2 linked regions of the Homo sapiens genome follow. The protein of the gene in region 2 purifies or fractionates together with the protein of the main gene of each other region. This does not show direct contact. Each region holds a gene or a part of one and is shown on either strand. Other genes may lie near its edges.

Region 1 (7,143 bases), on a different chromosome or scaffold from region 2:
TTTTTTTGAGATGGAGTTTTGCTCTTGTCGTCTAGGCTGGAGCACAATGGCATGATCTCGGCTCACTGCGACCTCCGTCTCCCAGGTTCAAGCGATTCTCCTGCCTCAGCATCCCGAGTAGCTAGGCTTACAGGCGCCTGCCACCATGGCCAGCTTATTTTTGTATTTTTAGTAGAGATGGGGTTTCACCATGTTGGCCAGGCTGATCTCGAACTCCTGACCTCACGTGATCCACCCACCTCAGCCTCCCGAAGTTTTGGGATTACAGACGTGAGCCACCGCACCTGGCCCAGGAAACATTTTCTTCTGGCCAATACTCTGGCCCTTTTGACTGTAAGGAAGTATGTGAAAGGGGGCAGTTTGCATGTTTGCGGAGTGGGCATATGTGTGGGAGTTTATTGAGAAAGATGGGGAAATGGTAAGATTTGTCTCCTGGGGGTTAGCACCCCTCCCGCTTATGGGCTTGGTGTGGTTTAAAGAAAGTGAGATGCAGAAATGCTGATCAAGGTGGCTCTGGGTCTCATCCTGTGAGCCCTGAATGCCCCATGCAGGAAGGGCACCATCTCAGGAGTCAGCTGGGCTTGGTGTCCCACACTGCCCCATGGACCTTGGGTCACTCCAGAGCTTTCCTGAGCCTCAATTTCCTTATCTGTAGAATGGGGATAATGATACCTTCCCCTCAGAGTTGTGAGTTTTACATAAGAAGAGGATATAAAGATAAAGTGGCCCAGGTTGGGCATTCAACAAATGTTAGTTGCTTCCCCACTTTTCCTTTCCCACATCAAGTTTACCTATGCATTGCATGCAAGCATCTCTTGAGGACATGCTATAATATGAGGTGCTATCCTGGCTGGGATGAGGGGAAGAAGCTCAGTAAGGAGCTTGATTCTAATCCTGGGTCTGTATGCCGAATATAGCAGTGAAGTTAGATCCTACAGTATAAGACAGAAGGAGGCAAGTGCCTTAGAATCCAGATGGAGTTCTATGGGACCTTAGAGGATAGAGACTCGATTTGTAACCAGGGCTGGGACAGGTGGGAGATGAGGTCAGATGGGGTGCCCAAGGAGAATGCATTAAACCTGGGTCTTGCAGGATGGTGGGGCTTAGATTTGGGAGGCGAAGGGCAGTTCAGCAGAAATGGTATAAGGGAGATAGGAGTGGCAGGGAGGGAAGGCTGTGTGGAGGACAGCGAGCTGTCCAGCCTGGCTTGGCCAGAGGGCACAGGGAGGAGAACCCTGGGAGACAGACTTGAGAACGTTTAGTTGGAATCATACCACAGCAAAACTCAAATTCCAGGCTGAAGCATTTGAACTTTATGCCAAAGGCACTGGGGAGCTATCGGAGCTTTTTGAGCAGGAGAGTGTGATGTGCTGTGCTTTAGGCAGGCTGATCTTGGCGGTGCTACATGGAACAGACTAGACAGGGTGGAGTGGAAGGAGGTGACTCCATGACCTAGATGAGGGATGGGCAGGTTGAATCCTCACAGCAGCAGTGAGAAAGGAGAGAAAGGATTGGGCAGGAGAGGCACTTTGTGGATCGTTGTAAACATTTCTGTTTATTTTTCATTATAAAGAATTTAAGCGGCTGGGCGCAGTGTCTCACTCCTGTAATCCTAGCATTTTGGGAGGCTGAGGCAGGTGGATTGCTTGAGCTCAGGAGGTTGAGACCAGCCTGGCCAACATGGCAAAACCCCGTCTCTACTAAAAATACAAAAAATTAGCTGGGTGTGGTGGCACGCACCTGTAGTCCCAGCTAATTGGGAGGCCAGCTGAGGCAGGAGAATCACTTGAACCTGGGAGGTGGAGGGTGCAGCGAGCCGAGATTGCACCACTGCACTCCAGCCTGGGTGACAGGGCGAGACTCCGTCTCAAAAAAAAAGAAAAGAATTTAAGCATCCACAAAAGTAGAAACAGAAACATTTAATGAACCTCTACGTGCCCGTTCCCCAGGTTCAACAATGGTTAATTTTTTATTTTTAAGAGACAGGGTCTTTCACTGGAGTGCAGTGGCACCATTACGGCTCACTGCAGCCTCAAACTCCTGGGCTCAAGTGATCCTCCCCACTCAGCCTCCCTAGTAGCTGGGACTACAGGCCCAGCTACCATCTGCCACCATGTCCAGCTACTTTTTAAAAACTTTTTGTAGCGACGAGATCTTGCTTTTTTGCCCAGGCCGGTCTCAAACTCTTGGGCTCAAACAATCTGCCCACCTTGTCCTCCCAAAGTGCTGGGATTACAGGTGTGAACCACCATGCCCAGCCTAAGAATGGTTAATTCATGGCCAATTTTGTTTAATCTCTACTCCATCCACTTTTCTCTTCCATCATATTTTGAAGTGAGTCTAAGATATTGTGTCATTTTATGGCTATTGCAGCGTGCAGGAAGAGGTATGACATTTTGGAAGATGAGTTGATGGGCCGTGCCACATGGGTATTGTGTCTCTGTGTGCCTGTACATACTCTCTTATGTGGAATTGCAATGGCTGATTTGACTCTTCCAAGTTGGGGGTCTTTTAAGGGCAAAGACCACCCTCCAGTGGCCAGGCTGTCTTCTCCTCCCCATGGAGTGCTTGGTATATGGTGCGACCGTCAGTGTGAACAACCTAGTTCCACTGGAAGAAAGAGGCCTGTTATTGGACCCTTTGGGCTATGGCCATCGAGACCACGGGTAGCTTTTCTGCTCAGGTCACGCTCTGATATGTTGTCAAATAAAACACAGGACACTCAGCTGGGTTTCAGTTTCAGATCAACAACAAATATGCCTGTAACATAAGTATGTCCCACACATTGCCCGGGGCATATTTATAGTAATAAATGACGTTATTTTTCTGAAATTCAAATTTAATCAGGCTTTTTTTTTTTTTTTTGAGATGGAGTTTTGCTCTGTTGCCCAGGCTGGAGTGCAGTGGCGTGATCTTGGCTCACTGCAAGCTCGGCCTCTCGGGTTCACGCCATTCTCCTGCCTCAGACTCCCGAGTAGCTGGGACTACAGGCGCCTGCCACCACGCCCAGCTAATTTTTTGTATTTTTAGTAGAGACGGGGTTTCACCGTATTAGCCAGGATGGTCTCGATCTCCAGACGTTGTGATCTGCCCGCCTCGGCCTCCCAAAGTGCTGGGATTATAGGCGTGAGCCACAGCGCCCAGCCCAGGCATCTTGTTTCTATCTATTTATTTATTTTGTTTTGTTTTTGGCTAAATCTAGTCAATCCTATCCTCTGGTCTTTTCACAGAAATCCTGCAGATCAAAGCCTTTGACCTAGGGCAGTGCTTTTCAAAGGGTGGTCCCAGGACAGCAGCATCAGCAACTCCTAGCTCAAAACAAGATCTCAGGCCAGGCGCGGTGGCTCATGCCTATAATCCAGCACTTTGGGAGGCCCACACGAGTGGATCATTTGAGGTCAGGGGTTCGAGGCCAGCCTGGGCAACGTGGTGAAACCCCGTCCCTACTAAAAAAAAAAAAAAAAAAAAAAAAAAACAAAAATTAGCGGGGCTTGGCAGCATGCACCTGTGATCCCAGCTACTCGGGAGGCTGAAGCAGGAGAATCGCTTGAACATAGGAGGCAGAGGCTGCAATCACCCGAGATTGGGCCACGGCACTCCAGCCTGGGCGAAAGAGCGAGACTCCATCTCAAAAAAACAAAAGCAAAAACAAAAAAATCCCAAAATGTCAGCCCCACCCAGAATGACGGAACCAGAGCCTCTGGGGGTGCTGGCATTTTGTGTTTGACCCCCTCCAGTGATTCTTTTGAGGGTCATTGACTGGAGAATGATGCCGATGCCATCACATTACCCGCCCCCAGCCTCTCCCGCAACACACACACAGCACATCCTGCTCTGCTGCGCACCCAGTGGCATGGACCTGGCTGCCAAAGGTGTAGAAGCATAAGTAACATCAGGGGTGTTACAAAGGGCTCTTTCCTTGGGTGTTTGTAGCTTCCCTTAGGGCTGCAGTCACTCGCAGACTGCTGGGCTCTTGGCCTCAGGGCTCTGTTCTGCCCGCCCAGATCTGTTCCTGAGCCTGCAGACGGCTGTGAACCAGAGAATCTATTCTTCAGGCGGGAGTTGCCAGTTGCGGCCAAGGGGGCGGGGCCCGGAGGCGGGAGGGCCACGTGTGCGGGAGGGAAGCAGGAAGTGACTGCGGGAGTGGAGCCGGCGAGAGAGTGGCAGCGGGGGCTGATGGAAGTGCAGTGGGGGCTGGAGAGGGCACCCTAGTGAGTTGGCTTTTCTCTCCTTCGGTGCCTTTGGTTGGGCTCGAGGCCCGGGGTCGGAGGCCATCAGGACAAGAGTGTGGGACTTGGAAGGGCAGCCACCTGGAGCTTGGAAGGGGGTACGCCTGGAGAGAGGAGGGGTTTGGAGGAGAAATTGGAGGCTTTGGCAGGTGTCGGGGCGGGGTGGGAGGGTGAGGGGCGGTGGGAAGGAAGTCCCCGGACCCCGGCTATGTCCCTCTCCAGGGTGATCTGGAAGGCAATGACATGCCTTCCTTTTACAGTCCTAACCCAAATCCTCTTCGTTCGTCCCTTCCTAGGCGGTGTGTGGGGGTACCCGGGATTCCTGGGAGCAGAGGCAGCTACAAATCCAGCTGCTCCCAGGCCCCTCCCACTTGCTCTGGCTGTTAGCTGGACCTCTGGAACTTGACTGGGAATCTGGTTAACTTGCAGCAGGTCTGGGTGGGGCGTGACAGTGTGCATTTCTAACTAATTCCCAGGTTGGGTGGTCCGCGGACCACGCTTTGAGTAGCGAGGCATTAGAGAACTTTTCCACAGTCCTCTCCGCCCAGACCTGAATCCTTCTGCTGGATTCCCCCTCGTGGAGTTAGGGCATGTGTGTGCAGCTCCACTAAGGCCCAGCAGCCCTAGTGCTGTTTCCACTTCTGCAACTTCACCAGCCTCTTGAACTGACTCTTGGAAGCGGAACAACAGGTTTAAAAGGGGGAGAAAGGAAATAAAGAAAACAAACCTGTATCAATCAGCCGGGAATGCCCATGTGCTGCTGTGGCAGGTGTGTACAAGTCTACAGGCTGTTGGCATGTTAAAAGTTGGAACGGTCAGAGAATGATTCTCCCTGCTGCTAACGAATCAGGGTTGATGGAATTAATATCCCCATCGTGAGGAATTCTGAGCCCCATTGTGTAAGCTGTGATGGAGATGCTGTGTCCTAAAGTTGTTACTGGTCTGCCGGTTAGAGAAAACTTCTTGTTCTCTTGGGACTCTGCCAGAAACTTTTTCTTCTCTTGAGACTCTGCAGAAAACTTTCTGTTCTTTTGGGACTCTTCTTTGCTCTTGCCAATCCCACATGGGGCAGGAGAACTCATTTTCTAAGCTCTTGGTATTGTAGAAGTTTTACCAGTTTTATTTATTTATTTATTTTTATTTTTTTTTGAGACAGAGCCTTGCTCTGTCACCCGGACTGGAGTGCAGTGGCGCGATCTCGGCTCACTGCAACCTCCGCCTCCCGGGTTCAAGCGATTACTCCTGCCTCAGCCTCCCGAGTAGCTGGGACTACAGGCACTGGGACTACAGGCACACACCACGACGCCCAAGTAATTTTTGTGTTTTTAGTAGAGATGGGGTTTCACCGTGTTGGCCAGGCTGGTCTCGAACTCCTGACCTCAGGTGATCTGCCCGTCTTGGCCTCCCAAGGTGCTGGGATTACAGGCATGAGCCACTGCGCCTGGCCAAGTTTTACCAGTTTTAATCTTTTGCTTTCCACAGTTTAATGTGCATAAGAATCCCCCATGGAATTCCACAAAATGCAGACCCTGATTCAGAAAGTCTGGGGTGAGACCTGAGTTTCTGCATTCCTAACTAGCTCCCAAGCCGGACCAGTGCTGCTGGTTCTCTGACCACCCTTGTAGCGAGGATTTAAAACAGCAAATAGAGAAGAAACTTCTCCGAGGGGCACTGGGCTTGCATTGCCCGTGATCAATGCTGCTCCTGTTGGGATGGAAAGGATGGTGGCCTCGGTCTTCCCTCTGTGTCCCTTTTTCTTACTCAGGAGGGTGCTCAGATATACATGGGGACAGGCTTAGACGGGTGTTTCCCTATCCCACTAACCACCAGGAACACCCACGAGCTCCCTCTGTTCTGTTCACCAGCCCACAAGATCCACATTGACTTTGGCCTGTTGGCAAATGTAAATTGTTTGCTCTCTTCTGTAGCTGTCAAGAGGCACATTCAAATACAGGAAAGAAAGGTGTTTTTGTTATGCCCTGTCTTGGATGATAAGTACTAAGAGGATGATCCCTTTGTGCTGTTCTTTGTAAATGCTGTTTGAAATTTTGTCCACAGCAACTCGGAATAGATGATTGGTGTAATGGTCCAGATGGCTTGGTTTAAAAACAAAGACCAACCCCTCTTTTTAGGGTGGCTTAGCAAGATGACGGATGTAAAGGGTAGTAGTTTTTTGAAAATGATTTTTTTTTTCTTTAATTGGCGTGGTCACAGTTTTCACAGTTGGTGCAGTTCGTTTAGAGTGCGGGAACTAGAGTCTGATTCCATAGATGCTATTTATCTCAGAGTTTCTGGCACAGGGGCTGAGCCAGGGCTCACCTGGGCTCACCTGGACCTATACCCTTCCTAGGTTTGAGCCTGGGTGTGTTGCTGAGCCGCTTGGCATAAGGGCTGCGTCCACACTCTGCCATGGTTTCCTTCCAGGGTCAATCGAGGCAGCGTCTTCAGCTCTTGATCTGCAGGCTCAGGGCTGCTGGCTCCTCACAGAGCACCGGGAACTGGCAGGGCTGAGCCCAGTGTGGTTGTGTCCAGCCAGCCCTCTGGGTGCTGGCAGACCATCAGGGAGATGAATGAGGCTTTGATATGAGGCCCTGAGCCCAGTGTTTGTGTACCAGAACACAGGGCTTTTCAACAAATGGGTTTCTCTGCCTTGTAACTTTCCACAGGGAGAGATCTGATTGTCATCTCAGATCCAGAATTTTAAGCATGTTAAAGTCTGGAGGAGGTTCTCTGGACTGAAATGAGAGGGAGTGGTACTTCCCTTCCTTTCCTTGGTGGGCGGTGGTGTAACTTCAGCTTCAGCAGCAGGGTGCTGAGTTGACCAGGGGACATTCCATTCCTGGGTCCTTTTGCTTGTCCTTGCTGACTGTCCTGTGCAGGTAAGCTGGCCCTTTTCCATCCAGCACATATTTTT
Region 2 (7,020 bases):
GTCTTCTGCAGAACCTGGTCTCAGCCATCAGGAATGCAGCAGGACCATGTTGGCTTGGTGTGCCACGGCACCAAGAGAGAGTGGGGAAGTGCACAGGATGACACCAAGATGGGCCCTTGGTGGGACCCAGGGTGCAAGGACTCACCTTCCCGCCGATCATTGCGCAGGCACTTGACCTTGGGGATCCTGGTCAGGAGTAGACAGTCTTCCGCTGAGGATGCAAAGAGGAAGGCAAGCTCATTTAGACATGGGCATCAGGCCACTAGTGGTTTGGCTGCCATGAAAATTGCCCCATACTAAGCCCAGGAAAGGGTTGGGGATGGGGATTGGGAAGAGGTATGGTCATCACTACTGGCCGAAGGGTTGCCCTGCCCCACTCTCAGGCCAGACTGAGGAGTGCCTGTACCTATGGCAGTACTCCACTCCACCTCAGGGAGCACTAGAAAGCACGCTTGGGGGTGGCTACCAGCCCAGCTATCATCTGCATTTGGCAGTTGTAATAATGAAGGATGCTGTTGATTTTCTTTACTTTTTAAAAACAATATCATCTCACTAGAGTCCCATCCAAAGCAACACCCACCCTTCTTTCCCCTCCTTTGACACCAGGGAACAGGACCAGGGAGGGGTCCTAGAAAAGACAGGATCCCTGCTGGGGGCAGAAAGGTGTCTGCGATGGTCAGGACAACCTCAGGGTGCTTGCCTTGGTGTTCTGGGGAAACAGGGACGAGGGCGGAATGGAGGGCTGCAAAAAGGAAGGTGACTACTCACGATCTGAGCTGAAGTCATCCACTAAAATGATCTCCTGGATCAAGTTGGCAGGAGTTCGGTTCAGGACACTACAGTAGCAGTGGAAACAGAGAAAGAGCCTGGATTTAGGAACCACCTCCCATTTTTACCACTCCCGGGGCCGTGGGACTCCCCAGCCGCCCAGCTCCAGGGCCAGCATGCTGGGCGCTCCTACCTGAATCCTATTCTTGTCTAAGTTCATTGAGGAAATGGGGAGATGGGAGTTCAACTTGACCACAAGCCCAGGCTTAGCAGGAAGAATCCACCTCCAATCCACCTCTCTCTGACACTGACAGACACTGCTGGGCTTCCATCACCCTCCTGAGGCCTCCTGTCTAGCCCGGCCTCCCTCAGCTCCTGACACCTGCATTTCTGCCCTTGTCCTGGACATCTGACCTGGTGTTTGACTGTCGCATTCCTCTAACAGTTTGACTTCTGGGGTCTTCCTGGCCCTGATTCACCAGTCTCAGCCTCTCAGAAGTACAGGACTCAGCCTCCAGCACCTGCTGGGCTTCAAGCTGTCTGGCCACAGCGCCCAATCCCAATGTCCTCCCCTGCCAGCACCACTGAGATGAGAGTCCCATGGCTGGACTTACCTCTTCACTGTGCGCAGCAGGGTGGAACGGGCCTCATTGTGGAAGGTGATGATGACGCTGGTGGCTGGCAGGTCCGAGGAGTAGGACACAGATGGGCAGCTGAGAAGGGAGCACAGAGGTCAGAGCCAGCCATGAGGGCATCCTCAGGGCAGGTCAATGTTTTTCTTTGTCCAGTCTTGTGCCTGAGAATACTTCTGCCAGGCAGAGAAGGCACACCAACAGCCAGGCCAGAGGCCCCGCGCCTCCACCCCCATGCTGCATCCCACACTGGCCCAGAACCCCGATGCCACCCATCCTGGGGTCCTGGGAGGGAAGCAGCAGGTTGGGAGACCTTCCAAGGCCTGGGGGCTCTTTACCAGAGATCTCAGAGCCCCCAGAGGGGGCTCCCTAGTATATACAGATACTGCACCAGGCCCCAGGATACAGCCCTGACCACACTCTGTCGTATGGTGGGGGGTATGTGCGAGAGGGAAAACTACCTCTGTTTGTCCTGATACCCTAGAGTTTCTTCCTTCTCTCTTCCCAGCTCAGGACATTTGGTAGAATCTGCAGAGGAATCACCCCTACCCTGGCTGCCAGGGAATTCCTCCCTGTCACTGCCCAACACTGACAGCCCTGCTGCAGACAACAAGCTGGGGAGCAGTCTCACTCCTCCCAGGGTACTGGGTCCCCTGGAGGAAACAAGCCTCTGTTAAGACACCAAAGGCCTATCCCGTCACTTCCTCCCTCCCCAGCCATCCATAGACACCACATTTTCTGGCCTACTGGCTCCCTCTCCTCTAGAAAGGGAGTGAAAACAATTCATTCCTGCCAGACTTCATCCCTGTTGTTTCTGCGTATGCATTTATTTGAGCTCCTGGGGTGCTGGAAGGTGGCCTCCGTTGCTGGTTTTCATAGCAATCTTCTTTATTACAATTGCTCTCTGACTATTCCACCAGTGCCCGTTTTTTCATTGTGGCATTCATTCTACTGACAGCAGCTTACAGCCCGAATTCCCAGGCCTGTTTCCTGCCCTGCAGAGCAGACCAGGTCAGACAGGCAGGAGTCCCACTAGCCTGGGACCCCCCTGGGGGAAATCTTGAGAGGCTGTGCAATAATTCTCCTTGAGAGGGGGTGTAGGGTAGTGGTGGCGGAGGGAAATTTGCCTTCTACCCCTTGAGAAACCATGCTGTTCAAGGGCCTATGAATTGTGGGGGAGGGAGTGAGCTTGGCCGGCTGAGCTGGGGTGTGCTGGGAGCAGCAAATACCTCCTAAGTGTGCACCCTCCCAGTGCTGACCTCCAGGGCCCCAGTCCTCTGTCCTGATCCCCCAACCATCCGGTGCCCAGAAAGGAGGGAATCGGGACAGTGACGTCTCCCTGAAGGGGGCAAACCCACCCACACCCCATCTGAAGGGTGAACTTGACCTCCCCACCGGCTCCCTCCAGCCCTTTCGGCATGCATGCCTCTGGGATTGATGTTACTTAGCATGGGGGTTTATCTGGCTCCCAGGAGCCAGGAGCCTCTAAAGGGGTTTGTCCCAGCCCTGAGTTTTGAGTTTGGAGCTGATGGGGTTTTCTCTGTGATCCTCCTCGGCCTGTCTTATGTGGTTTATGTCCCTTTGCTCCCCTGGAGCGGGCTCCCTAGATTGAGGCTGGACCAGAAATGAACCTGACAATTTGGAGTCCAGCGGACACTACAGCCTGCAGGGCTGCAAGGAAGAGCAGCTTCTACCAGCAAACTGGCCCCACCATGGCAGGAGGCCTGCCCACTAAAGCCAGCACGTCCTTTGCTTCCCTACACGTGTGCATGCGTGCGCGCGTGCGCGCGCACACACACACACACACACACACACACACACACACACACACACACACACACACACACCCCGTGAGCCACCTCAGCTTTCTTTTTTCTTTTTTGAGACGGAGCCTTACTCTGGCACCCAGGCTGGAGTACGGTACTGCGATCTTGGCTCACTGCAACCTCTGCCTCCCAGGTTCAAGAGATTCTCCTGCCTTAGCCTCCCGAGTAGCTGAGATTACAGGTGCCCACCACCACACCCAGCTAATTTTTGTATTTTAGTAGAGACAGGGTTTCACCATGATAGGCAGGCTGGTCTTGAACTCCTGACCTCAAATGATCCACCCACCTCAGCCTCCCAAAGTGCTGGGATTACAGGTGTGAGCCACCGTGCCTGGCCCACCTCAGCTTTCTGACAGGGCCCAGCAGCAGCATGTGGCACCTCATCAACCCACCACTACCCTGGATTTAAAGCGTCTCATTTAAAAATGTACATAGCCCCCAGGGCAATTCCCCCTTTAAGTTTCTCAGTGAGCACCTGAGGCGGTTCAGAGTCAGGTAAGCTGGGGGGTGAACAGAGATTATCCAGGGCAAGCCCTCAATTCACAGATTGGGGCCAACAGATCCTCTAGACCCTGGGACTAGGTCAGCCATGGCTAGGGCTGCCCATGAAAGGTCTCTAAGTGGAGCTATGTGGATGTAACCTCTTCTGCAGCACAGGCAGACAGGAGGGGATGCTGCCCAGGACTGGGTGAGAAAGAACTTCTGAGGCCCAGAAACAGCCAGCAGGCCTGGTGGTGTCCTTGCCGCGAAGCAGGAGTACTGCCTTACTTGGCTGCATGAGTGGTTTCTGGAGGCTGACAGTGCTGGCGTTACAGGACAGCAAGGCCAAGGTCTGGGGCTCCCCCAGCCCTGTGTTCATCTCACCTTGCACAGGCCACCAAGCACCCTGGACTTCAGGCATGCATCTGTGAGTGACAAGGAAGGTGCTAGAACCAGGCCCTCTCGCACCCTCACCTCACCTATACCCTTTGTGCTGTGGAGTAGCTGCTTCAGAAGTAAAAGCAACCTTGATCCAAGTCATTGTTGCTACCCTCAAGCCAGGACCAGACGGAGGCCCAGCCTAGCTTTGAGCACACAGCTGCAGGCACAGCCGTGAGTCAGCTCCAACAGCGCCCTGGCCATTCTGTGAGATGTCTGCACAGAGCACAGAAGAGGGGCCCAACCTAGCCCGGGTTGGGAAGGAGCCTTCCATGGAGGAGAGGACAGTGAGCCAAGTGTCCTCGAAGTGAGCCAAGTAGCTCAAAGGGTAGGTGGGGCGGAGGAGGTGCGTTTAGGCAGAGGAAACAGCATGTGTGAAAGCAAGGAAGGAAGGAGGGAGGAATCTGGGACTGCAGGACCATCAAGTGCTGGGGGAAAGGTGGGTAAGGCCAGGTCATGGGGAGCGGGGGGTGGTGCTTCAGCATCAGGAACTCAGACTGTTCGTGCAGGTGACGGCAGGAAGAGGAAAGACTGGAGATGGTGACTTTCACCCTCTAGACAGAACACACAAGGGCATAGACCCAGAGAGGGGCTAATGCCTTGCTTAAGGCCGGTCACGCACACTGAGCTGGGATGAGAGTGGAGGCTTCCTTGGTCCTGGTCTAAGGCCTCTCCCACCTCACCATACTGAGAGAACTAAGAACAAGACTAGGAAGCATTTCTGGGAGTTGCTGAGGAGGTGGAGCTGTGGTGCAGGAAAGGGAGGTCAATGGGGTGGGCCACAGCACCCCACTGTTTGCAATGTGCAGGGCTGTGACTCTCTCCACTTTAGGCACCACCAGTAAGGCCCCAAGAGCGCCTGGCTCACCCACTGCCACGGACCTCCTTTGGTCCCCTCCCAGGTCACTTTTGCTGGGGCGCCAGACTGAAGTGCCTTGGGGCCTCCTTGGCCCCAGCGGAGCGGTTTCCTTGGTCTTGGCAGGGCCTCAGTAGGCCAGGTAAACCAGCAACAGAGGGTGAGGGTTTTTGAATGTCTAAATCACTGGACACAGTCTGAGGAAATCATCCTCATTTCTTAGATACACGTAAAAGAAGACAAACTAAACAATGTTGGCTTTCTCTCAGTCTTTCTTCCTCCACTGACACGATGGAGGCCGTACCTGTAATGGCGGGTGTCCCGGATGGGCCGGTCTGGGCTCAGCTTGTCACTCTCCAGCTGGTTGAAGGCGTGCTGTCTGTAGGGGTCCTCTCCAGCCTTCAGCTGCTTGGCCGACAGGTAGGCCTTCTCATCAAAGCCTTTCGAGGGAGTTCCTGTCACCTGAGATGAAGGTCAGCATCAGAGAGGACCACAGGCAGGAGGACCCCACTGCTTGGCGAGTGCTCAGCACACACCAGGCGGGAGCCAGCCACGTGGCCTCATTTGTGCCTTACGCCAACTCTATGAGGAGGAGACCATTATCTCCCCCACTGTACAGAAGAGAAAACTGAGGCTCAAGAGGGTTTCTTTTTTTTTCTTTTTTTCTTTTTTTTTTCTTTTTTTTGACACAGGGTCTTATTCTGTCACCCAGGCTGGAGTGCAGATCTTGGCTCACTGCAACCTCTGCCTCCCAGGTTGAAGCGATTCTCCTGTCTCAGCCTCCCAAGTAGCTGAGATTACAGGTGCGCACCACCACGCCTAGCTAATTTTCATAGTTTTGGTAGAGGTGGAGTTTCGTGGTGTTGGCTAGGCTGGCCTTGAACTCCTGACCTCAAGTGATCCACCCACCTCAGCCTCCCAAAGTGCTGGGATTACAGGCATGCGCCACCGCGCCCGGCCATCAAGAGGCTTTTTAAAAAGCATCCAGGGTCAGAGCTATTAAGTCACAAGGTCTGGATTTAAACTGGTCATTCCGACTCCAAAGCCCATGCTCTTAACCAATGTTCTTTGCGGGATATTGGGGGGGTGAGTCCTGGAGTGCACCAGACCTCTAAGGCAAGGTGTCCTGAGGGGACTACAAACCAGAATGGATGCTGCCAAGCGCCTGCAGATTGACAGTCTCCTAGGCAGAAACTTGGGCCTAGCCCTGGCCTAGGCATTATATGAGGCACCCGATCAGTAAAACACCAGGGCTTGGACAATCTGCTGCATAAAGAACTACCTGTAAGGACAGCAAACCCCTGCAGGCTGATGCCAGAGCTACCAGAACTCAAGTGCTCAGACAGTGATGCATCTTCTCTGGGACTTTTGCTTGCTCCTGAAATGGCCCCTGTAAGATCCACTGGTCCCCAGGCACTAAGTGCTGGGCAGTGATGGATGGCAGATGCCATTGCCCATCCCGTTCCTTCATGGCCACACCCTACCCTGTGCTCCCAGAGTCTCCAGCAACAGACACTGGGGAAGGACACATCTGAAATTAACAGATGGATGCAAGCACCCTGACATCTCATTACTTGAACCAAACTGCTGGCTGGATGTTCTCCAGAGTGCCATGAAATATCATCAACTGTGGGTACATCCCAACTCCAACTTTCCGCCCAACCATCAGCCCTGGGCTGAAGCTGGGGCCCCAGAGGAAGCAGAAAGGAGGGTGAGAATTGCCCACTCACAAAACTCTTGCATGAGGATGCTATCACAGGCCTAGTCCTAGAGGGATGGTCCCAGCAAGGCAGCTAGACCTGTGGGGAGTGGATCGCTGTGTGGAATGACACTGGGACTGTCACCAGCAGCTCAGGGCCTCTATGTTCCCCTGAGAGCCTAGCCCCCGACCTCACTGGACAGGCATGCCCAGGGTCCGGGGAGCTCTGATCTCCTGAACTGCTGCCACTCTGTAGCGATACTACCTTCTAGGGTTGCCTCCTGTCCTAGGAGCCAGTTGGAGGTTCCCTGAGGGCAGAAC

What was found. The genes of interacting proteins can lie anywhere in the genome.
Region 1: the proteins of GALNT16 (region 2) and SLC39A11 purify together in Homo sapiens (co-immunoprecipitation; 4 studies listed by BioGRID and IntAct, with this or other methods). This does not show direct contact.

The regions. Positions count from the first base shown.
Region 1 is NC_000017.11:73,089,679-73,096,821, reverse strand, and holds the start of SLC39A11 (zinc transporter ZIP11), read left to right. Parts: upstream 1-4,133; 5' UTR 4,134-4,211; exon of another isoform or gene 4,212-4,327; intron 4,328-4,705; exon of another isoform or gene 4,706-4,998; intron 4,999-6,971; exon of another isoform or gene 6,972-7,108; intron 7,109-7,143. UniProt on the Homo sapiens protein: Zinc importer that regulates cytosolic zinc concentrations either via zinc influx from the extracellular compartment or efflux from intracellular organelles such as Golgi apparatus. May transport copper ions as well.
Region 2 is NC_000014.9:69,319,153-69,326,172, reverse strand, and holds part of GALNT16 (polypeptide N-acetylgalactosaminyltransferase 16), read right to left. Parts: intron 5,463-7,020; coding exon 5,305-5,462; intron 1,482-5,304; coding exon 1,383-1,481; intron 837-1,382; coding exon 769-836; intron 212-768; coding exon 146-211; intron 1-145. UniProt on the Homo sapiens protein: Catalyzes the initial reaction in O-linked oligosaccharide biosynthesis, the transfer of an N-acetyl-D-galactosamine residue to a serine or threonine residue on the protein receptor.